2 linked regions of the Homo sapiens genome follow. The protein of the gene in region 2 interacts with the protein of the main gene of each other region in a pairwise test. Each region holds a gene or a part of one and is shown on either strand. Other genes may lie near its edges.

Region 1 (11,148 bases), on a different chromosome or scaffold from region 2:
TGATCCTCCTGCCTCAGCCTCCTGAGTAGCTGGGACCAAAAGTGCTCACCATCACACCCGGCCAATTTTTAAATTTGTTGTAGAGACAGGGCGCCACTAAGTTGCCCAGGCTGGTCTCAAATTCCTGGCCTCAATTGATCCACCCACCTTGGCTGGATGTGGTCTTTTTATTATCTTCTTCTGGAACTCCAATTAGACAGTCTATCCTCATGGCTTTTATTTTTTATTTATTTTTTGAGTGGAGTTTCGCTCCTGTTGCCCAGGTTGGAGTGCAAAGGCACGATCTTAGCTCACTGCAACCTCAGCCTCCCAGGTTCAAGTGATTCTCCTGCCTCAGCCTCCTAAGTAGCTGGGATTACAGGCGCCTACCATCACGCCTGGCTAATTTTTTGTACTTTTAGTAGAGATGGGGTTTTGCCATGTTGGCCAGGCTGGTCTAGAACTCCTGACCTCAGGTGATCCACCTGCCTCGGCCTCCCAAAATGTTGGGATTACAGGCGTGAGCCACCGTGCCTGGCCCTATCCTTGTATCTTAACCAATATATTCCAATTCATAACACTGGGGAAAAAATGAAAAAAAACTGTACTGCATAGAAATGGTTTTCTTATTTTTCTTTTCCATAGAGTCCATGTCTTCTCTGTCCCTATATATACTTAACCCAATTTCTGGTATACAGGACATATTTATTTATAGCAGAGGCAGGGTCTCACTCTGTTGCCTAGGCTGGAGTGCAGTGGCACAATCATAGCTCACTGTGGCCTCCAAATCCTGGGCTCAAGCGATCCTCCTGCCTCAGCCTCCCGAGTAGCTGGGACTACAGGTGCGTGACATCACACCTGTCTAATTAAAAAAAAAATTTTATTTTGTAGAGACAGGGTCTCACTATGTTGCCTAGGCTGATATTGAACTCCTGGCCTCAAGTGATCCTCCTGCCTCGGCCTCCCAAAGTGCAGGGATTACAGGTGTGAGCCACCATGCTCGGCACTACATCTTTAGTAAATGAATGAACACAGTGTTATTTCCATTTTGGGTATTACCTGCCCACCTAGATAAAAATCCTCAGAGACAGGGGAGCTGCCTATACTTCTTTGATATTGCCTAGTGTAATGATGACAACATAGTAGATTCTCAGCTAACAGCCAGTGAATTAAATATAGCTGGAAAGTCCTTCAGGAGGTTTTTCCTTTTTAAATTTTTTTTTTTTTAATTTTTAAAGAGACAGGGTCTCATTTTGTTGCCTAGGCCTGTCTCAAACTTCTGGGATCAAGTGATCCTTTTTTTTTTCGAGATAGATCTCACTCTTATGCCCAGGCTGGAGTGCAATGGCATGATCTCGGTGCACTGCAACCTCCACCTCCTGGGTTCAAGCAATTCTCTTGACTCCACCTCCCAGTACCTGGGATTATAGGCATGCACCACTATGCTGGGTTGATTTTTGTATTTTTAGTAGAGACAGGGTTTCACCCTGTTGGCCAGGCTGGTCTCTAGCTCTTGACCTCAAGTGATCTGCCCACCTCAGCCTCCCAAAGTGCTGGGATTACAGGCGTGAGCCATCCCGTCTAGCCTCAAGTGATCCTCCTGACTCGGCCTCCCAAAGTGCTGGGATTACACGCATAAATCACTGCACCCGGCCAGATTTTCCAATTTTAACAATCTCTTTCTAGAATCAAGTTCTAAGTGCAGAAAGAACTAGCTCAGAACATCACCGATTCCCTGGCCATTCACCAGCACGCACACCCAGAAGAATAACAATGCTCCTCAATGATACTACTCCAAGTACCTCGCCGATGGCCTTGATCTTGCTCAGGCAGTTCCTCATGGCTGTGCTGTCGGCATTCTCAAGGCTTCCCTCTTCCTCCAGGGAGGCCAGGTAGGCGAGGGTTTCCCTGCCATACTGCTTACAGGCCTCGGTCAGTGCTGGAGATACAAGGCAATAGACACTTTTTTTTTGAGATGGAGTCTCGCTCTTGTTGCCCAGGCTGGAGTGCAGTGGCGCCATCTCGGCTCACTGCAAACTCCGCCTCCTGAGTTCAAGCGATTCTCCTGCCTCGGCCTCCCAAGTAGCTGGGATTACGGGTGCGCCACCATGCCCGGCTAATTTTTGTATTTTTAGTAGAGACGGGGTTTCGCCATGTTGGCCAGGCTGGTCTCGAACTCCTGACCTCAGGTGATCTGCCCACCTCGTCCTCCCAAAGTGTTACGGCGATTACAGGCGTGAACCATTGCATCTGGCCCATCGTTTTTGTATCTTTAGTAGAGATGGGGTTTTGCCATGTTGGCCAGGCTGTTCTTGAACTCCCGACCTCAAGTGATCTGCCCGCCTCAGCCTCCCAAAGTGCTGGAGTTACAGGCATGAGCCACTGCGCCCGGCCCAACAGAGACTTTTAAAGGCCCCCTGCTCCCCTGGTCCATGAACAGCCCCTCATGCCCCGGTACTCACAGTCGGCAGGCTCAGGTGGGGCTCTGAGGCAGGTGGTGGCACCATGAGCAATGGCGTCGCTGGTCAAGTGGGCCAGCAGGGTTATGGAATGGAGAAGTCCACTGATGTCTGCCAGGATTGGAAAGAGAAGTTTCTCAGGTCTGGTTGATGGTGACACTTTCATACCCTCTCCTCCCGTTTTATGAGTTGCCTACATGCCTTTCTTGTATGAGTTGCCTACATGCCTTTCTTGATGCAGAGGGACCTGTCACTATCCCCGCATTCAGGTGCTTCTGAACCCTGTCTGGCCATCACTAGCCGACAGAGACTGTCCTTGGCCATTCTTACCTTCTGGGCAGGCCAGATACTGGCTCCAGCTTTTCTCCAGTTGCTCGATGCAGCTGGAAATGGATGTGACCGTGGAGAGGAGGTGATCTGTGAGAGGGAACACAGGGCAAGGTCAGAGCAAGTTCTCATAGCTGGCTTCATCCTCGTTAATTAAGCACTGAATGGAGGAGCTTACCTAGTGGGTAAGCTTCCTGCCTAGACGTGAAGTTCATGAGTAATCACCTCTTGATTCAGACCATAGTTTTTTCCTTAGAGAAACAGAATTGTCTGCTCCTGGTGGGTGTTTTATCAGTGTGACCCACTGTCTAAAGCAGTAGCTATCACACCTGGGGGCTTTAGAAAATACTACTGCTGGGCCTGGCGTGGTGTCTCATGCCTGTAATTCCAGCACTTTGAGAGGCCAAGGTGGGAGTTCAGAAGTTTGGGACCATCCTGGGCAATAGAGTGAGACCTCGTCTCTACCAAAAATTAAAAAATTAGCCAAGGCCAGGCATGGTGGCTCATGCCTGTAATCCCAGCACTTTGGGAGGCCAAGGTGGGTGGATAGCCTGAGCCCAGGTCTTCAAGACCAGTCTGAGCAACAAACCGAAACCAAAAATTAGCTGGGCGTGGTGTTGCGTGCCTGTAGTCCCAGCTACTTGGGAGAATGAGTGGGGAGGATTGTGTGAGCCCAGGAAGCGGAGGTTGCAGTGAGCCACGGCACTGCACTCTAGCCTGAGCAACAGAGTAAGACCCTATCTCAAAAAGCGGGGGGGCGGGGGGGGGGAAGAAAATACTAAAATACTAGTGTATAGGCACTAATGCACAGAGTTTCCACATGTAACTGATCTAGGATGGGGCCTGGGCGCCCCTAAGGTAATGCTGACATGCTGCTGGGCTGAGAGCCCCTGAGCTAAGTCTCACATGAGATTCAACATCAACAGAGTCTCAGGCTGTAAGGACCTGGCCCCTGCCAGCTGGGCAATTGCAAGTGTACCTGCAGACCCAGCGCAGCTGATGAGAGGAGGTTCTTCAAGCTGGTTCAGGGCGTCTTGTATCACCTGCTCCGCAGCCTTCCTGGACCCCACCAGAAGCATTTTTCGTTGGTCTTTGGCAAGCTGGCACATAGATTCCTAAAAATGGTCCAGGGAGGTGAGAGTCTGCCCTAGACTCCATAATGAACCTGAGCAGGATGACCTGGCTGGGGCTCTTAGCATCTTAGCTCAAGTCATGGCCAATGAGGTCCAAGCCAGTAAGCCTGAGACAGAGAAAGGCGCTTTAACTGTGTGCACAGGATGTGCGGCTGCCCACGATGTGCGGCTGCCCACAGAGGCTGTGGGGATGGATCACTGCGCCCGCTTCTCATGGCTGGGAGGAGATGCCAAACTTCTCTTCTCATACAAAAAAGACAGCAGTTTGCTTTCCCTCATGGACTCTGCAGGCAATGCAGGGCCTGCTGGCATTACACCTACAGAATGTCTGCACAATCAGGCCAAGGCCCCAAACCCCTTCTCAGCAGCCCCGGGGTCCTCCCAGCCTCCGTGCATGCGCAGAGGCCCTCGGTGGGAATTCACAGGTGCTCGCTCGTGTCCATGTCCGTGACTTGCCTCTGTGCTGGCCAGTTTGAGCTGAGTGTCCTGCAGTTCTTTCCGAAGAGCAGATAATTCCTCCTCCCTATGAGCTGCGCCACTCACCAGGCTGTCCCGCTCCTTCTCTAGCTCGGCGAACTCGGCTGCCCAGTTTGCTTCTGACTGCAAAGGTGACCACAAGGAAAGAGGGAGACGCTGGTTGAGTTAAACAGTCCCTACTTCCCAGAGGTCCAACCCACCACCGGGTTGCAAGGACTGGGAAGGTGATGGCTCTTTAACCTGCCACTCTGATTCCCTCCCGGGGACACACTGATTGCAGTGGGGGCTGACTTGGCCAGGCCAAGGATGGTGGATGACAGCAACGCCAAAGCCAGGGGTGGGGCAAGAAAGGAGGCCGGGCATGAAGGCTCATGTCTGTAATCCCAGCACTTTAGGAGGCTGAGGTGGGAGGATCACTTGAGCCCTGGAGTTCGAGACCAGCCTGGGCAACATAGTGAAACCCCGTCTCTACCAAAGAAAATACAAAAACTAGCCAGGTGTAGGGGTGTGTGCCTGTAGTCCCAGTTACTCGGGGGGCTAAGTGGGGAGGATCACCTGAGCCCAGGGAGGTGGAGGCTGCAGTGAGCTGCGATCGCACCACTGCATTCCAACCTGAGTGACAGAAGAAGACTCTATCTCCAAAAAAAAAAAGGAGGTATTTACCTGGGCAGAAGTTTCCAGGCTGCCTTGCAGAACCTGAAGCTCCCGTTGGCTTGTGGCAAGTTCCTGCTTCAAGCTCTCTAGAACTTCCAGCTGTTCTTGAGTCTGAAAGAGAAGAAAAACAGAGGGACTCTGATCTGGGTGACAGTGACAAAGAATATAAAAATGTAAAAACGTCCCAAGCGATCAACAAGAGATCTGTAAACTCTACTGTATGTAAGTTACACCCCCCCAAAAAAGTGCAGGGTGTGGGAGGAGGAGGCAAGACCCCAGAGTGTACTGAAAATGTGGAATGTCAAGGAAGGATTTTTTATTATTTATTTATTTATTTATTTATTTATTTATTTTTGAGACGGAGTCTCGCTGTTGTTGCCCAGGCTGGAGTGCAGTGGTGCAGTCTCAGCTCACTGCAACCTCCACCTCCAAGGTTCAAGAGATTCTTGTGCCTCAGCCTCCCAAGCAGCTGGGACTACGGGCACACGCCATCACACCTGGCTAACTTTTGTATTTTTAGTAGAGATGGGGTTTCACCATATTGGCCAGGCTGGTCTCGAACTCCTGACTTGGTGATCCACACCCCCCTCAGCCTCCCAAAGTCCTGGGATTACTGCCGTCTCAAAAAACAAACAAACAAAACAAACAAACAAAAAAAAACGCTCATCCCTCTCTCTCTGCCACCCATGTGTTTTCCTTTCCTCAAACTCTCCACCAGCCTCATCCTTGGAAAGCCTTTGTTGATTAACCCCAGGCAACTTGGGTCCTTCCATTACTTCGTGTATGCACTGGTGACGGTGTTTTGCTGTTCTGTGTGGCCACCATGGTGTGCTCCCTGCTGTGTGATGCCAACCGACCCACAGAACTGCCCATGGAGCAGAAGGCCACAAAGCCCCCGCCACCAACTCAACAGCCCCCTCCCTCATTTCCCGAGTGCTCCTCGTCCCACTCACCTTCCGCTGGCCCTGGTCACTGATGCGCTCCAACGAATCCTCCAGCTCTTTTTTCTCTCGTTCCAAATCTACCTGGGCTTGTCTGGCCATGGACACCTGTTTGGTCACCTCTGCATTCTGCAAAAGAAGAACAGTGTCTTGAACCAGGAGATCCCAGGCTTAGAGGACATCCTCCTTCTAGGACAATCATACTCAGGCTGTGCGTGCCCTAGAGTCAGACACAGGAATCACTTTCCTACCCACAGCCGGAACAGAGCCATCACCTTCAGATGCTTGATGCTCAAATATTTACAAAATAATAAAGAAGGTGGGTGACCTACATGGGATTGGCACCCAGGACACAGCCCAAGACACAGAGGCAAGGAAGCCTGAAAAGGTGTGGTTCCCGAGATGACGGCAATGCCTTAGAGATCAATGTAGGGGTTGCTGGCCCCGGGGAAGCCACAGGCCTGAGCCGCTCTCTCCCTAGAGGTGCAGGGCCTGCAGGATGGTGACAGGGGCTGAGGGTCTTACCTTCCGCAGCAGGTCAGCGTGGTTCTGAACCAGCTCGCTGTACTTCTCCTTTAGCTTGCTATATCGCTGTTCATTGGCTTGAGCTTTCCCTGTATTGTAAAGGACCAAGGTGAGGAGTCTAACCTAGCAGGGACCCTTGCCTTCCTTGCAATGAGCCAGGGTCCCTAGAAGGTCCTCCTTGTTTTGTTTTGAGACAGTCTTGCTCTGTCACCCAGGCTGGGGTGCAGTGGCACAATCACTGTTCACTGCAGCCTTGACCTCCTTGGGCTCAAGTCATCCTCCCACCCCAGTCTCCTGAGTAGCTGGGTTCATGGGCACACGCCACCACACCCGGCTAATTTTTGTAGAGACAGGGTCTCACTATGTTTTCCAGGCTGGTTTCAAACTCCTGGGCTCAGGTGATCCTCCCATCTCAGTGGGATTATAGGCATGAGCCACTGTGCCCGGCCAAAGATCTTCCTTTGATTTAGGAATGCATATATGCTTTTCTCCCTTGAAAGTCCTACTTACAGAAACTTCTCCAGGAAGTCATCTTTAAAAAGAATTCAACTAGTTAAAAATCAAGCCAGGGGCCAAGCGAGGTGGCTCATGCCTATAATCCCAGCACTTTGGGAGGCCAAGGTGGGTGGATCACCTGAGGTCAGGAGTTCAAGACCAGCCTGACCAACATGGTGAAACCCCATCTCTACTATAAATACAAAAATCAGCTGGACATGGTGGTGTGTGCCTGTAATCCCAGCTACTCGGGAGGCTGAGGCAGGACAATCCCTTAAACCTGGGAGGTAGAGGTTGCAGTGAGCCCAGATCACACCACTGCATTCCAGCCTGGGCGACAGAGTGAGACTCCACCTCAAAAAAATAAAACAAATAAATAATCAAGCCAGGGATTCATGCCTCTTCAGCACTTACATACATGGCATTTATTCTATGGGGGCTTTCAGCTTTTTAACAAATTTATTTGAAATTTTTTAGAGACAAGGCTCTCTGTTGCAGAGGCCGGAGTGCAGTGGTGCAATCAGCTCACTGCAGCCTTGAATTCCTGGGCTCAAGCGATCCTCCTGTCTCAGCCTCAAGAGTAGCTGGGACTACAGGCACGTGCCACCATGCCCGGCTAGTCTTTTTTATTTTTTCTAGAGATGGGGTCTTGCTATGTTGCCCGGGTTGGTCTTGAACTCCTGGCCTCAAGCAGTCCTTCCATCCTGGCCTCCCAGAGTGCTAGGATTACAGGCATGTGCCACTGTGCCCTCAGCTTTTATGTCAATTTCTTTGTTAGGACCTCAATCCTCTCTCCTTCTCCCTTAGTATCCACTGCCCAGGGCAAGCACTTCAGTGCTGTCTTCTGTATTTCCCATCTCTGTGCTCAGCGGTGCCTCGCACACAGCTTTGTGCCTGCAGGACTCAAACCCGCCCTCTGGACTGAGGCTAAGAGCTGGCATTCCTAGCTGTTTCTAGAAAGACAGTCTGGGTCTCCCCCACCCAGCCTCTGTGCCGCATCCTGAGTCCAGCTGGGCTCTGCTGCCCGCGCCTGCCCCCGGGGCCCGCCCCCGCCCCCACCCACCGCTCACTTTCTATCTCAGACAGGCTCCGCTGAGCCTTCTCGGTGTCCTCCCGCTGCCTCCTGAGCTCGTCCAGTTCTGCCCGCAGGAATTCACAGTCGTCGGCCGCCTGCTGCCGCAGGTGCTGCTGCTCGGCCAGATCTGCTTCCAGCTCGCTGACGTGGCCCTTCAGCTGCAGCACAACCCGCTGGCTCTGTGGGGGGACTCCGGTCATGAGGCCAACCGCCCACTGCCACGGGTCACGGGCATGGGCCGGAGAAGCGGGTCCTACCATGCTTCCAAGTAAATACCTGATTCCCCTAAGTCAACTCTCCACGTCCCAGGAGGGTTGGACCATCTGGTCATTAGGAGCCCCTCAATCAACAACAATAACAGGGGATGATGGCCGGGGAATTGTGGTCCTCTTTAGAGTGGCTGGGGGTAGCAGTGGCTGTCCCTGTGGGTGAAGTCACCTGACCAGCCACTGTGAGGGGCGGTTGTTAATATAGCACCAACATTGCTCACAGCTGTCTCTTCTCTTTTTTTTTTGGCGGTTGGGGGAGGGGAGGGACAGGGTATCACTATCACCTAGACTGGAGTGCAGTGAGGTGATTATGGCTCACTGCAGCCTCAACCTCCTAGGCTCAAGAGATCCTCTAGCTTCAGCCTCCCAAGTAGCTGGCATTACAGGTATGCACCACCATGCCCAGCTAATTTTTAAAAAGTTTTTTGTAGAGATGGGGTCTTGCTATGTTGCCCAAGCTAGTCTTGAACTGCTGGGCTCAAGTGATCCTTCTGCCTGAGCCTTCCAAAGTGCTGGGGTTACAGGCGTGAGCCACTGTGCCCGGCAAACCAATCTCTCCTTATCGCCATGTGAGAAGGTCTGGTCTTGTTCTCCACAGCTTCTCAGCCTCGTGGGGACCAAGGTCATCTCTGGGTATCAATCACATGGATACTGTGCCTGGCCTAAATGCTGTCCTCATGGCATGTAAAATGGAAATGCATTATGACAGAGAACACGGGAAGACCTGGTTCTTTTGGATTTAGCATTTCTACCAGTTTTTATTTGGTTTTAGAGACACAGGTCTCGCTATGTTGCCCAGGCTGGATTCAAAACTCCTGGGCTTGAGTGATCCTCCTACCTCAGCCTCCTGAGTAGCTGGGATCACAGGTGCACACCACCACGCCTGGCTTGTTTCTACTAATTAACCTACCCTAAGGATGTGGTCCAAAAACTGTCTAGGTGATGCAATTTTTTTTTTTTTTTTTGAGACAGAGTCTTGTTCTATCGCCCAGGCTGGAGTGCAGTGACACGATCTCAGTTCACTGCAACCTCTGCCTCCCAAGTTCAAGCAATTCTCATGCCTCAGCTTCCCGAGTAGCTGGGATTACAGGTGCCTGCCAACACACCCGGCTAATTATTGCATTTTTATTGAAGACGGGGGTTTCACCCTGTTGCCCAGGCTGGTCTCGAACTCCCGACCTCAGGTAATCCTCCTGCCTTGGCCTCCCAAAGTGCTAGGATTACAGGTGTGAGCCACTGTGCCTGGCTAGTGTGATGCAAATTTAACATTCAAATCTACCGTGTTTTGGTGAAGCGCAAAGGCAGAGCAGATCCAAGTTATACCTCAGTCTTCATGTTTTCTAGCTGTGCCTTCAATCCACTGATCTCTCTGTATAGTCGCTCAATTAAGTGGTCCCTGGGAAGAGAAGGGGAATGAGTTTGCTTTCATAGTGCTTCTATCCCTCTGTTTTTAATTGTGAGCTCAGGGGAGGAAATTAAAAGCTGGTATTAATTTGGGGACAATTCTTTGAAATGCCATAAATTATACTCTAAATGTTACCAGATACTAATCTAATACTCATAAATCCATGGTTATTGATTTTCTTCTGAGATTAAAGGGGCCAATATTTGAGGGTCAAGACATTCCTTTTTTGTGTGTGTTTTCGGTTTTGTTTTAGAGACAGTCTGGCTTTGTCGCCCAGGCTGAAGTGTAGTGGCACGATCATAGCTCACTGCAGCCTTGATATCCCAGGCTCAAATGATCTTCCCACTTCAGCCTCCTGAGTTACTGGGACTACAGGTGTGTACCACCTGCCCAGCTAATTTTTTTACTTTTATTTAATAAAGATGGGATCTTGCTATGTTGCCCAAGCTTGGTCTTAAACTCCTGGCCTTAAAAAATCCTCCTACCTCATCCTCCCCACATGTTGGGATTACAGGCATAAGCCATTGCCCCCAACCCTTCAAGATGTTCTGTATCTAAGAAGCCCCAGTATCATTAAGAATTCCTCTTTGGTTAGTGTTTTGAGGCAGACCATGGCTTAACTTAGCTCCTGAACCATCTGCTTGAACCCAGCTTGGACTCACTTCTCATCCTTGTTCACACCATTTTGACTGTTGAAATTGAAGGGATCACTGCTGAATGAACTGCCAAAGATGTCATCAAACTTGTTGTCAAATAAATTCTGTGGTTGACCAAAAAGGAGTGAGAATAAGTCAGAGAGCCAGAGAATTCTGTGTGTGGGTCAGTTGAGTGATATGGGAGAATGCCCCCTTTCTCGAATTAAACGGTTCAGACCTGTTTAATTTTTTTAATTTTTTTGAGACAGGTTCTCGCTCTACTGCCCAGGCTAGAGTACAGTGGTGCAATCATAGCTCACTGCAGCCTCCAACTCCTGGCTCAAGTGATCCTCCTGTTTCAGCCTCCTGAGTAGCTGGAAGTATAGGTGTGTGCCACCATACCTGGATAATTTTTTTATTTTAATTTTATGTATTTATATTTTTAGGGCCTGGTTCTTGTTCTCTTGCCTAGGCTGGAGTGCAGTGGCATGATAACAGCTCACTGTAGCCTTGGCCTCCCAGGCTCAAGTGATCCTCCCATCTCAGCTTCCCACATAGCTGGGACCACAGGTATGTGCCACCACATCTGGCTAATTTTGTAAAGATGGGGCCTTACTATGTTGCCCAGGCTGGTCTTGAACTGGCCTCAAGCAGTCTTCCCACCTTGGCCTTGCAAAGTGTTGGGATTACAGCTGTGAGCCACTGCACCCATTTATGACCCTTCTGGGAGCCACAGAGCAGGATGCTCAGCCTAGGTTGGTGCTAGGTGAATGA
Region 2 (11,068 bases):
TTCCAGAAACCCAGACCCCTAGCAGATGGAAAACACCCACTGCTGTCACATAGACCCCAGATAAGGGGGAACTGAGGACTGAACTCTGGCCTTACCCAGTGTATAACTGAGGCGGGATTTTTCTCAGCCCCTTTGTCAGCCGGAGGTCTTCAGCTGGCGACACCCCTGCCCGGGCCTTGCTCAGGCCTGGGCTTGCTGCAGGAGATGCCCCGTCTACTCAGGTCACTGGGCCACGCCTGGCTTCCACTCCAATGCAGATCCCTGCACTCAGCCCCTGGAGGGAGGAGGTGTGAGCAAGTGTGGAGTCTGACCACCACACCAAGCACAGACACAGGAGTGGGTTCCATGCAGGGCTTGAGGCTGGACCAGGCATGTTGCACTGAGGGGAAAGTGGTGGTATATGAACAGGGATGCCTATGACCCCAAAGCCCCAGAGTGGGTATTACAGCATGCTAATAGCTCTTTTGGTCCCACTGTCTGCAGCCTGATGGACAGCGGCTGATGTGTTAACAGCTCTGTCAGTCCCATTGCCCCATTCCAGCCTATGGCTCCAGTACTGGCTTGGCCCTGCCACTCCTTCCCATCACATGAGGCACCTGACCTCAGCCAGTGGAAGGCAGAGGACCAGTGTTACAGCCTCTTTTTACCTACATTCGGTAGTCCTAAGTTCTTGTCCCGTGTCCAAGAAGAATGAGGTTATGTTGACGATTGAAGGGTGAGGGGGACAAAGAGCTTTACTGAGTGACAAAAGAGATCTCAGTGGAGAGGAGGATGTGAGGGCTTCCCCCACCTGAAGTTGGGTGGTCTCTTACTCGGTGTGGCTGTGTCTGCGGCTTTTATAGGCTCAGAATGGCAGAGTACATGCTGATTGGTTTGTGAGTATGCAAAAAAGGCTAAAACAAAGGCATCACTCAAAGGTGGGCACAACAGTGTAAGAAACCAATTAGGGAAGGGTAGGTATATGTAAAATAGGTGAGGGGTGGGGATCAATCAGAGGAAAGTGCACCAAAGTGGAAGAGAGGTTCTCACTCCAGTCCGTGGATTTACCCAGGACTTGTAGCTTGGCTTTCAGGCTTTAAACTGTCTTTGGTTTGAAGGTTGGTTTTCACCGGGGACCTGTCCCTGTCTGCCTAGGATTTGTCTGCCTCCTGCCACTCTCATAACAATAAAAGTTAGCTGCAGCCAGGTGCGGTGGCTTACACCTGTAATCCCAGCACTTTGGGAGGCTGAGGCCAGTGGACTCCTTGGGCTCAGGAATTTGAGACCAGCTGGGCTACATGGCAAAACCCCGTCTCTATAAAAAATACAAAAATTAGCCAAGTGTGGTGGTGTGTGCCTGCAGTGCCAGCTACTGAGGAGGCTAAGGTGGGAAGATCACTTGAGCTCAGGAGATGGAGGTTGCAGTGAGATGTGACCTTGCCACTGCACTCCATTCTGGGAGACTGTCTCAAAAAAAAATGCTGCTATTATAGCTTGAACCCTCAGCTGGGCACTGGCAGAAATGTGAAGCTGAATTAGACATATAGTCTAGAAGGGAAGAGAGAGAGGAAAGTGTATTGTCACTAGATAATAGAGTGTGATCAGTTCTACTAGAGATTGTTAACCTAAAAAGAAGAGGCTGAGTCACAAAATTAAAGTTACTTGATTCACAGTGAGACAGCTGTCCATAAGACTCATACCCAAGTAACCTTGGATATGAGCTCTGTTAGGCCTTTGTTTCAAGTTTTTTTTTTCTGTTTGTTTGTTTGTTTTTCCGAGATGGAGTCTTGCTCTGTCGCCCAGGCTGGAGTGCAGTGGTGCAATCTCAGCTCACTGAAACCTCTGCCTCCCGGGTTCAAGCGATTCTCCTGCCTCAGCTTCCTGAGTAGCTGGGACTCCAGGCATGCACCACCACGCCCAGCTAATTTTTTTGTATTTTTAGTAGAGACAGGGTTTCACCATGTTGGCCAGGCTAGTCTCACACTCCTGACCTCGTAATCCTCCTGCCTTGGCCTCCCAAAGTGCTGGGATTACAGGCATGAGCCACAGTGCCCAGCCACAAGTATGTTTTTAAAGGTAAAATGCAGGGACAAGGAGTGGGCTGATACAGTCTTTTGTCAGGAATTCTCATTGGTTTACTGAATTAGCACTGATTAGTGATTGGCCATACATTGTTAAGCTGTAGGGTATGGGTTACAGTGTCCATTGTGGTATTATTAGGTTAATTTATACCTAGTTGTGGCAATAGCAAGCAGTTTCAAGAGATAAATAAATAGCTCAAAAGGAAGGAAGTAGAATGTGGTTGCTGTCTCATTTTAATGTTGTTACTGAATTGACCTTGGATCTGCTTTCCTAGTGTGCAGAAAAAGCCAAACACTGGCCAGGCACAGTGGTTCATGCCTATACTCCCAGCACTTTGGGTGGCTGAGACAGGAGGATCACTTGAGGCCAGGAGTTCAAGACCAGCCTGGCCACATAGTGAGACCCAATCTCTTAAAAAATAAGCAGGCGTGATGGCATGTGCCTATAATCTCAGCTACTCAAGAGGCTGAGGTGGGAGGATCACTTGAGTCTTGGAAGTAGAGGCTGCAGTGAGCTGTAACTGTGCCACTGCACTCCAGCCTGGGCAACAGAGCAAGACTCTGTCTCAAAGTAAAAACAAACAAACAAACAAAAAAAAAATGCCAAACAGCGACACCAGGACTTGCAGCAAAAGAAAGTGAGATAATTTATTGCAGGTGCCAAGCAAGGAGAATCAGGCAGCTAATGCTTAAGACCTGAACTCCACAATGGCTTACAAGCAAGGGTTTTTAAAAGAAGGGGCACATTTCAGGAAAGCAAAATTGTAAATCGATACATAGAGGTTACACATTGGTTTGCCCCAAAAAAGTGGGATATCTTGAAGCAGGGGCTCATGTGAATTCAGAGATTCTTTGATTTGTAATTGGCTAAGGAAGCAAGGCTTTGTCTAAAAACTTGGTGTCAGCAGAAAGGAATGCTAAGGTTTGGCCCGTGGGTGTGACTCTCTCCACATCCCTCAGGAATAATTTGGAAAAAAGGATGGTGGTCAGAGTTCAGTCTTCAGTTCCCCCTTATCTGAGGTCAATGTGACAGCAGTGGGCATTTTCCATCTGGTAGGAGTCTGGAATCCCAGCACTTTGGGAGACTGAGGCAGGAGAACAGCTTGAGCCCAGGAGTTCAAGACCAGCCTAGGCAACATAGCAAGAACCTCCCGTCTTTACAAAAAATTTAAAAATTAGTCAGGTGTGGTGGCATGTGCTTATAGTCCTAGCTACTCAGGAGGTTGAGATGAAAGGATAGCTTGAGCCCAGGAGTTCGAGGCTGCAGTAGGCCTGGATGACACAGAGAGAACCCATCTCTGAAAAAAAAAACAAAACCAGAAGACATGTCAAGGTGTTATTTGTTTTTAGAGATGCAGTCTCACTCTGTCACCCAGGCTGGAGTGCAGTGGTACAATCACAGTTCACTGCAGCCTCGACTTTCCAGGCTCAAGCAATCCTCCCACCTCAGCCTCCAGAGTAGCTGGGACTACCGGCATGTGCTACCACCCTCAGCTAATTTTTAAAGTATGTTTAGAGACAGGGTCTTGCTATGTTGCCCAGGCTGGTCTTGAATTCCTGGACACAAGTTATCCTCCGCCTTGGCCTCCCAACGTGTTGGAATTACACGTGTGAGCCACTGCACCTGGCCAAGATATTATTTTCATTTTTTTTTAAATAGTAATGAGATCTTGCTATGTTGGCCAGGTTGGTCTTGAACTCCTGGCCTCAAGCCATCCTTCTACCTCTGCCTCCTAAACTGCTAGGATTACAGGCCTGAGCCACTGCACTCTGTCTTTAGTTGTTGTTTGTTTTTTTGTTTTTTTTTTTATTTTGAGACGGAGCCTTGCTCTGTCGCCCAGGCTGGGGTGCAGTGGCACGATCTCCACTCACTGCCATTCTCCTGCCTCAGCCTCCCGAGTAGCTGGGACTACAGGCGCCTGCCACCACGCCCGGCTAATTTTTTGTATTTTTAGTAGAGACGGGGTTTCATCGTGTTAACCAGGATGGTCTCGATCTCCTGAACTCTATCTCATGATCTGCCCGCCTTGGCCTCCCAAAGTGCTGGGATTACAGGCATGAGCCACCACGCCCAGCCCCTATCTTTAGTTTTTATAGAGAACTAAACATCTTGTGACTCTGGCTTACTTGGGTGGCTGCTTAAGTTACTATTACCTTCTTCCTTGGTGGGTTATTCATTTACTTCCCTAATTGCTGGGTGCAGGGCTAGCTAGTTCCTGAAATCTCCCTTGAAGGGACTCAAAATTTTCCCTTTATCTCCATACTTGCGGGCCAGAGGGGCACCTAAGAAGGGTCTGTCCTCCATATCAATGTCTCTCTGGGCCTGATAATATAAAAGGATGCACATTCCTCAGATAAAATCTCTTTTCTCAAGATAGACCAGCAAGAGGGAAGAAGTAGAAGGTTCTAGGTTCTCCAAACACCCTAGTTTCTCTTACAGATAAGTTTTTCTGTATTGGGGGAGGGTGGCATGGGGTTGGGGGGTGGTCTGTATCTCCCAACAATCTAAGTTCTTCCTTCACTTTGCAGGGATACTATGAGCAAATAACCCTGACTCTGTTTTCTGTGGTAGTGGTAGTGGGGAGTGCTCCAAGAACTCCTTGAGCCTCATTAGTCCCTCGTTCTTATCTGAGAAGGTTCCTATTGCTTGGTGTATTAGTCCGTTTTCATGCTGCTATAAAGATACTACCTGAATTGGGTAATTTATAAAGAAAGGAGGTTTGGGCCAGGCATGGTGGCTCATGCCTGTAACCCAGCACTTTGGGAGGCTGAGGTGGGTGGATCACCTGCAGTCAGGATTTTGAGACCAGCCTGGCCAACATGGTGAAACCCCGTCTCTACTAAAAATACAAAAATTAGCCGGGCATGGTGGCACGTGCCTGTAGTCCCAGCTATTTGGGAGGCTGAGACAGGAGAATCGCTTGAACCCGGGAGGCGGAGGTTGCAGTGAGCCAAGATCGTGCCACTGCACTCTACTCTGGGTGACAGAGTGAGACTCCATCTCAAAAAAAAAAAAAAAAGGAGGTTTGGCCTGACGCGGTGGCTCATGCCTGTAATCTCAGCACTTTGGGAAGTCAAGGCAGGTGGATCACCTGAGGTCAGGAGTTCGAGACCAGCCTGGGCAAAATGGTGAAACCTCGCCTCTACTAAAAATACAAAAATTAGCCGGGCATGGTGGTGTGCACCCAGCTACTTGGGTGGCTGAGGCAGGAGAATCACTTGAACCTGGGAAACAGAGCTTGCAGTGAGCTGAGATCATGCCACTGCACTCCAGCCTGGGCAACGGAGCAAGACTCAATACTCAAAAAGAAAAAATAAAAAAAAAGAAAGGAGGTTTAATTGACTCACAGTTCTACATGGCTGGGGAGGCCTCAGGAGCTTATAATCATGACAGAAGGCAAAGGGGAAGCGAGGCACATCTTAGATGGCAGTAGGAGAGAGAGCGAGAAAGTGCCACACTTTAAAACCATCAGCTCTTGGGAGAACTCACTCACTATCATGAGAACAGCATGGGGGAAACCACCCCCATGATCCAATCACCTCCCACCAGGTCCCTCCCTCAACATGTGGGGATTACAATTCAAGATGAGATTTGGGTGGGGACACAGAGCCAAATCATATCACTTGGGTAGTGGAGATGAGGGAAAGGAGTGGTATTCCAAAGCACGAGGTATTGAGTACGTTGTTTCATGAGTCTTTTTTTTTTTTATTTATTTTTTATTTTTTTATTGATCATTCTTGGGTGTTTCTCGCAGAGGGGGATTTGGCAGGGTCACAGGACAACAGTGGAGGGAAGGTCAGCAGATAAACAAGTGAACAAAGGTCTCTGGTCTTCCTAGGCAGAGGACCCTGCGGCCTTCCGCAGTGTTTGTGTCCCTGGGTACTTGAGATTAGGGAGTGGTGATGACTCTTAACGAGCATGCTGCCTTCAAGCGTCTGTTTAACAAAGCACATCTTGCACCGCCCTTAATCCATTAACCCTGAGTGGACACAGCACATGTTTCAGAGAGCACAGGGTTGGGGGTAAGGTCACCGATCAACAGGATCCCAAGGCAGAAGAATTTTTCTTAGTACAGAACAAAATGAAAAGTCTCCCATGTCTACCTCTTTCTACACAGACACGGCAACCATCCGATTTCTCAATCTTTCCCCCACCTTTCCCCCCTTTCTATTCCACAGAACTGCCATTGTCATCATGGCCCGTTCTCAATGAGCTGTTGGGTACACCTCCCAGACGGGGTGGTGGCCGGGCAGAGGGGCTCCTCACTTCCCAGTAGGGGCGGCCGGGCAGAGGCGCCCCTCACCTCCCGGACGGGGTGGCTGGCCGGGCGGGGGGCTGACCCCCCTACCTCCCTCCCGGACGGGGCAGCTGGCTGGGCAGAGGGGCTCCTCACTTCCCAGTAGGGGCGGCCGGGCAGAGGCGCCCCTCACCTCCCGGACGGGGCGGCTGGCCGGGCTGGGGGCTGACCCCCCCACCTCCCTCCCGGACGGGGCGGCTGGCCAGGCGGGGGGCTGTCATGAGTCTTGTATTATCCATTTTATTATTCCTTAGTGCATGGTAAAGCTTCCTTTAAAATGCAAGCTGATTTATTTGAGCCAGAGGACCCCAGGGGAGGTGAGATAGATACCCACACCTGGGCAGAGGATTACAGGGAAAACGGCACCCGCTCTTTCCCCTGGGCACATATGGTAGAGGCTGTGGGAATGAGGGTATTGCAGGGGTGATGAGGGTAGAGTCAGGACTGTAACTCCTCATTCCAGGTTCCCCGGAGCTTTGACTGTTGTGCTCCTAGCCTCAAGCAATCCTTCTGCCTCTGCCTCCTAAGGTGCTAGGATTACAGGCCTGAGCCACTGACTGTCCTCCTCCTAGGAGGCTGTTGACTGAGAAGGTCTGGATGTCAAAGCCTTTCACCACAGGATATAGCCAAGATTACTGCAGAGCCAAGGCCCAAGGCCATCCTTCCCTATGCACAGCTCTTCGTAATTCCCCTGACTTCTGTGTGTGCAACTTGTAAGCAGCTCAGCCTGGAGTAGAAGTTGGGGTTCTGACTTTCTACAGCACCTGGGACGGGAAGGATCAGAGGAGCACAGGGAGCTGACTGCCTTATAGGTGTCTCACGTCATCCCATCTGACCCTCCAACAAGCATGTCAGGCTGGCATTATTCACCCCATTCTACAAAGCTCAGAGCAGTGAAGGGCCTTGCATGTGACATTTACCATCATCATCACTAGTATGTCCCTACTCACATCACAGCAATTCTTTGCTCAAATCTGTAATTGCTGAGACTCGAAGTAAAACCCAAAGTCTTCACAATAGCAATAGCCTGCAAAGCTCTGCCCCCCTCCTCTCTTCTCTGACCTCCTCACTGCCCCTGTCTTACTCACTCTGCTCCAGCCACAGTGGCCTCCTTGCTAGCAGTTCCCTCCCCAACACGCCCGGCACAGTCCCACATTCCCGCCTTGCTCTGGCTTCCGCTGTGGCTGTTTCCTCCCCGCAGAACACTCCTGCCTTCCTCACCGCCAAGTCTGGACTCAAACCTCACCTCCTCAAGAGGCTTGCCCAGACAGCCTTTTATATTCTGCAAACTGCCTCCCACTGCCACCTGCCCCCTTACTTTTTGTGGCCTTGACCTTTCAACATACTACATGATTTGCTTACAATACTTGTCTGTCTTGCCTTCACCAGAATGTAAGCGCTCTACAAAGGCAGAGGGAAGGCTATCTTGCTCTCTGATGTATCCTCCAGCCCTTAGAACAGTCCGTGGTACTTAGCAGGTTTTCAGTACATCTGTGCCCGGCGATGGAAAGAATGAATGAATAGTGAGACCGAAGATCGCGGCCGTAAGCCTCTGGGCACGGGTGCCCCGGGGCCTGGCGGAACGCTCAGGGAACTACATTTCCCGTGAAGCTCTGGGCGCAGAGGGCCGCGGGGGCTGCCGGGAAAGGCATACGTGCTTAATCCTGGTGCAGGGGGCGAGCATGGCCGCTCCGCGAGGTGAGCCATTGGCTGGGGTGTCGGCGAGTGTGTTCGTGGAGCGCGTCCTGGGGACGACTCCCGGCATTATCGGCCAGGTTGAGTCCGCTCCTGGCATTCCGCGGAAAGATGGGTGGGTGCCGGGCAGAGGTGTGGCCACCTGCGATGGGGATTGACCTCCGAGGGGAGGGGGCCCTTCTAGACGTCGTGCCGTGGGATAGGTACCTTCTGCTCCCTCCCCGCCACCCTGCCTCAGATCAGCACAAGGTCCTTACTGCTGCCCATCTGACAGTTGGGAACATCGAGGCCTGCAGCGGAGGGGGGTCTCATCCAACAGCCTACAAAACCCTTATTTGACTCTGTCCCCAGTGAGCACCCCCAGCTCTTGCCTGGTTTCCCGGGACACTAGGGTGGGGCCTGAGGAGTGGAGTGGCAGCTGACCCTGTCTGTGCCCCTAGTATTCCCACTTTCCTGTGCGGTGCAGCAGTATGCCTGGGGGAAGATGGGTTCCAACAGCGAAGTGGCGCGGCTGTTGGCCAGCAGTGATCCACTGGCCCAGATCGCAGAGGACAAGCCTTATGCAGAGGTGAGCCCCGGGCTGTATTTCAGCCCACTTTACCCGCAGGTCAGGAGAAAGGGCCTGAGGCAAGTCATAAGAATCAGCTGGGAAGGGTGAGGCAGCAAGGAGGGAGGAGACCCACTTGGCTCTTCAGGCTAATGGACTAGATAGTGTTATCAAAAAGAAGAGAGGTTTTGTCATAATAGGCTGGGATTTCCAGCACTCTCCTTCCCCCAACCACTCTTAGCACTTAGTGAATTTTAATTCAGCCCTCTTTGACAATTAAGTTTTTTTACTTTGACTATTTTTTTGCATTTTTATTAACCTAAAATATTTCTCCTGCCTATTTAGTGGAGAAAAAGCCAAAGCATAGGAAGGCTTTCGCCTCTGCTTCTGAAACTGGAAGATGTATGTTAACCCCTGAAAGAATCATTTAAGAGTCATAGTTTTTCTGCTACCTTGACAGTGCAGATGTCATTCTCCTCTTTGGACAGACAAAGAAGATACATCTAAAGAAGGGAAATAACTAGTCCAAGTCTTCATAGATGGCTAGAGGCCGAGTCTGGACAAGGGCCTGGGTCTACTGCCTCCCTGTATGTCCATGATGGCATGAACATTTGTATCCAGACCTGGGAGGCCTTTCCCAGGACTCAGTTGCCCTGTGGGGAGCACAGCATAACGGATTGGGACAGGCCAACTCAGGGTGGCAGGTTTCTTCCCCCTTCCCCTCCCAAGTTTCCTGTCTTTCCAGTTGTGGATGGGGACTCACCCCCGAGGGGATGCCAAGATCCTTGACAACCGCATCTCACAGAAGACCCTAAGCCAGTGGATTGCTGAGAACCAGGACAGCTTGGGCTCAAAGGTCAAGGACACCTTTAATGGCAACCTGCCCTTCCTCTTCAAAGTGCTCTCAGTTGAAACACCCCTGTCCATCCAGGCACACCCTAACAAGGTAAAGGACAGAGTGCGGTGCAGAGGTCAGGGTACAGAAGGGCTTATGCTAAGGCCCTCCCGTGACTTTTACTGCCACTTTTACCCCACCCATGCCAGGCTCCTGCCCAAGGCCAAATCCAGGCTGACAACTCCCAATTTAGCTCTGCAAAGCCAGATGGTAGTGACACATGCAGCAACTAAGTCTAAGCAAACAGCTCACCGGCCTGTGCCAGGGGAGTTTCTCTAAGCTCATTCCAAGGGGCTTGTTCCTGGTCTTCCCTCATCCAACCCATGTCTATTCATATCTGCCATTTACTCATCTGCTTTCAGGAAGAGTTCAACTTGCAAGGCAGGGCAGGTACCCTCAGCCCCACCCCCATGGAGTCTCCCTACACAAGCCGGAGTCCCATCCTAAGCAACTGTGGATCAAAACTCCTTTTTTTTTTTTTCTGAGACTTGAGTCTTGCTCTGTCGCCCAGGCTGGAGTGCAGTGGCGCGATCTCGGCTCACTGCAACCTCCTCCTCCCAATTCAAGCAATTCTTCTGCTTCAGCCTCGCAAATAGCTGGGACTACAGGCACGCGCCACCACACCCAGCTAATTTTTGTATTTTTAGTAGAGATGGGGTTTCACCATGTTGGCCAGGCTGGTCTTGAACTCCTGCCCTCGTAATCCGCTCGCCTCAGCCTCCCAAAGTGCTGGGATTACAGGCGTGAGCCACCATGCCCAGCCAAAACTCCTTATTTCTAGATACACAAAGTAAGACCCAGAGAAGGGAGGGATTTACCAAAGCCACACAGCTTGTTAGTGTCAGAGCTTGGTCTGGTATTTGGGTTTCCTGATTCACAGGCCAAGCCTCTTAAAGTCTGCCCCAGCTTTTCCCTGATTTGCCCCGGGGTTGCCCCTGATTTGCCCCTGCCCTGGGTTGGCTGAGCCCCAAGTTTCTGCAACATGCTTTGACTGGGCTCCTTGCCAGAGGTAGGTAGTCACTGCCATCCTGCAACTGGGGAGGGTGGACAGCAGGGGCTAGGTGGCACTGGTGTACCTGCTAGGTAATGGCTGTACCCTCACCATCCTCCTCTTCCCCTGGCCACCCCACAGGAGCTGGCAGAGAAGCTGCACCTCCAGGCTCCGCAGCACTACCCCGATGCCAACCACAAGCCAGAGATGGCCATTGCCCTCACCCCCTTCCAGGGCTTGTGTGGCTTCCGGCCAGTTGAGGAGATTGTAACCTTTCTAAAGAGTAAGTTGGGCAGAATGCTGAAGGCATGCGTACTGGGCCAGGGATACCTGGGGAACCAAGATGATAGGAACAGTGGCTGAGAACGGGTCACATGTCACAGGAACTGAAGGGCCTCATGAAGCAGTTTTTGGAGCCAGTGAGCCAGGCCAGTGAGACCAGGCTCAGGTGTGGTAGTCAAGGGCTGGTGGTGAGTGATTGGTTTCCACTGCAAAGTTTACTTAGCATTGCCGGCTCTTTGGTTAGGGCTGGGATGGAAAGGTGTCCTCCAACTCCCCACTTGTGTGGGTTCCATCTTACCA

What was found.
Region 1: the proteins of MPI (region 2) and HIP1 interact in binary tests that used the Homo sapiens proteins (3 or more experiments, as listed by UniProt).

Annotation. Positions count from the first base shown.
Region 1 is NC_000007.14:75,551,672-75,562,819, forward strand, and holds part of HIP1 (huntingtin-interacting protein 1), read right to left. Parts: intron 10,500-11,148; coding exon 10,402-10,499; intron 9,731-10,401; coding exon 9,658-9,730; intron 8,245-9,657; coding exon 8,061-8,244; intron 6,585-8,060; coding exon 6,496-6,584; intron 6,100-6,495; coding exon 5,983-6,099; intron 5,141-5,982; coding exon 5,039-5,140; intron 4,499-5,038; coding exon 4,355-4,498; intron 3,881-4,354; coding exon 3,745-3,880; intron 2,856-3,744; coding exon 2,769-2,855; intron 2,550-2,768; coding exon 2,442-2,549; intron 1,919-2,441; coding exon 1,782-1,918; intron 1-1,781. UniProt on the Homo sapiens protein: Plays a role in clathrin-mediated endocytosis and trafficking. Involved in regulating AMPA receptor trafficking in the central nervous system in an NMDA-dependent manner. Regulates presynaptic nerve terminal activity.
Region 2 is NC_000015.10:74,882,034-74,893,101, forward strand, and holds the start of MPI (mannose-6-phosphate isomerase), read left to right. Parts: upstream 1-8,008; 5' UTR 8,009-8,040; coding exon 8,041-8,056; exon of another isoform or gene 8,057-8,164; coding exon of another isoform or gene 8,165-8,168; intron 8,169-8,404; exon of another isoform or gene 8,405-8,493; coding exon 8,494-8,621; intron 8,622-9,345; coding exon 9,346-9,546; intron 9,547-10,627; coding exon 10,628-10,769; intron 10,770-11,068. UniProt on the Homo sapiens protein: Isomerase that catalyzes the interconversion of fructose-6-P and mannose-6-P and has a critical role in the supply of D-mannose derivatives required for many eukaryotic glycosylation reactions.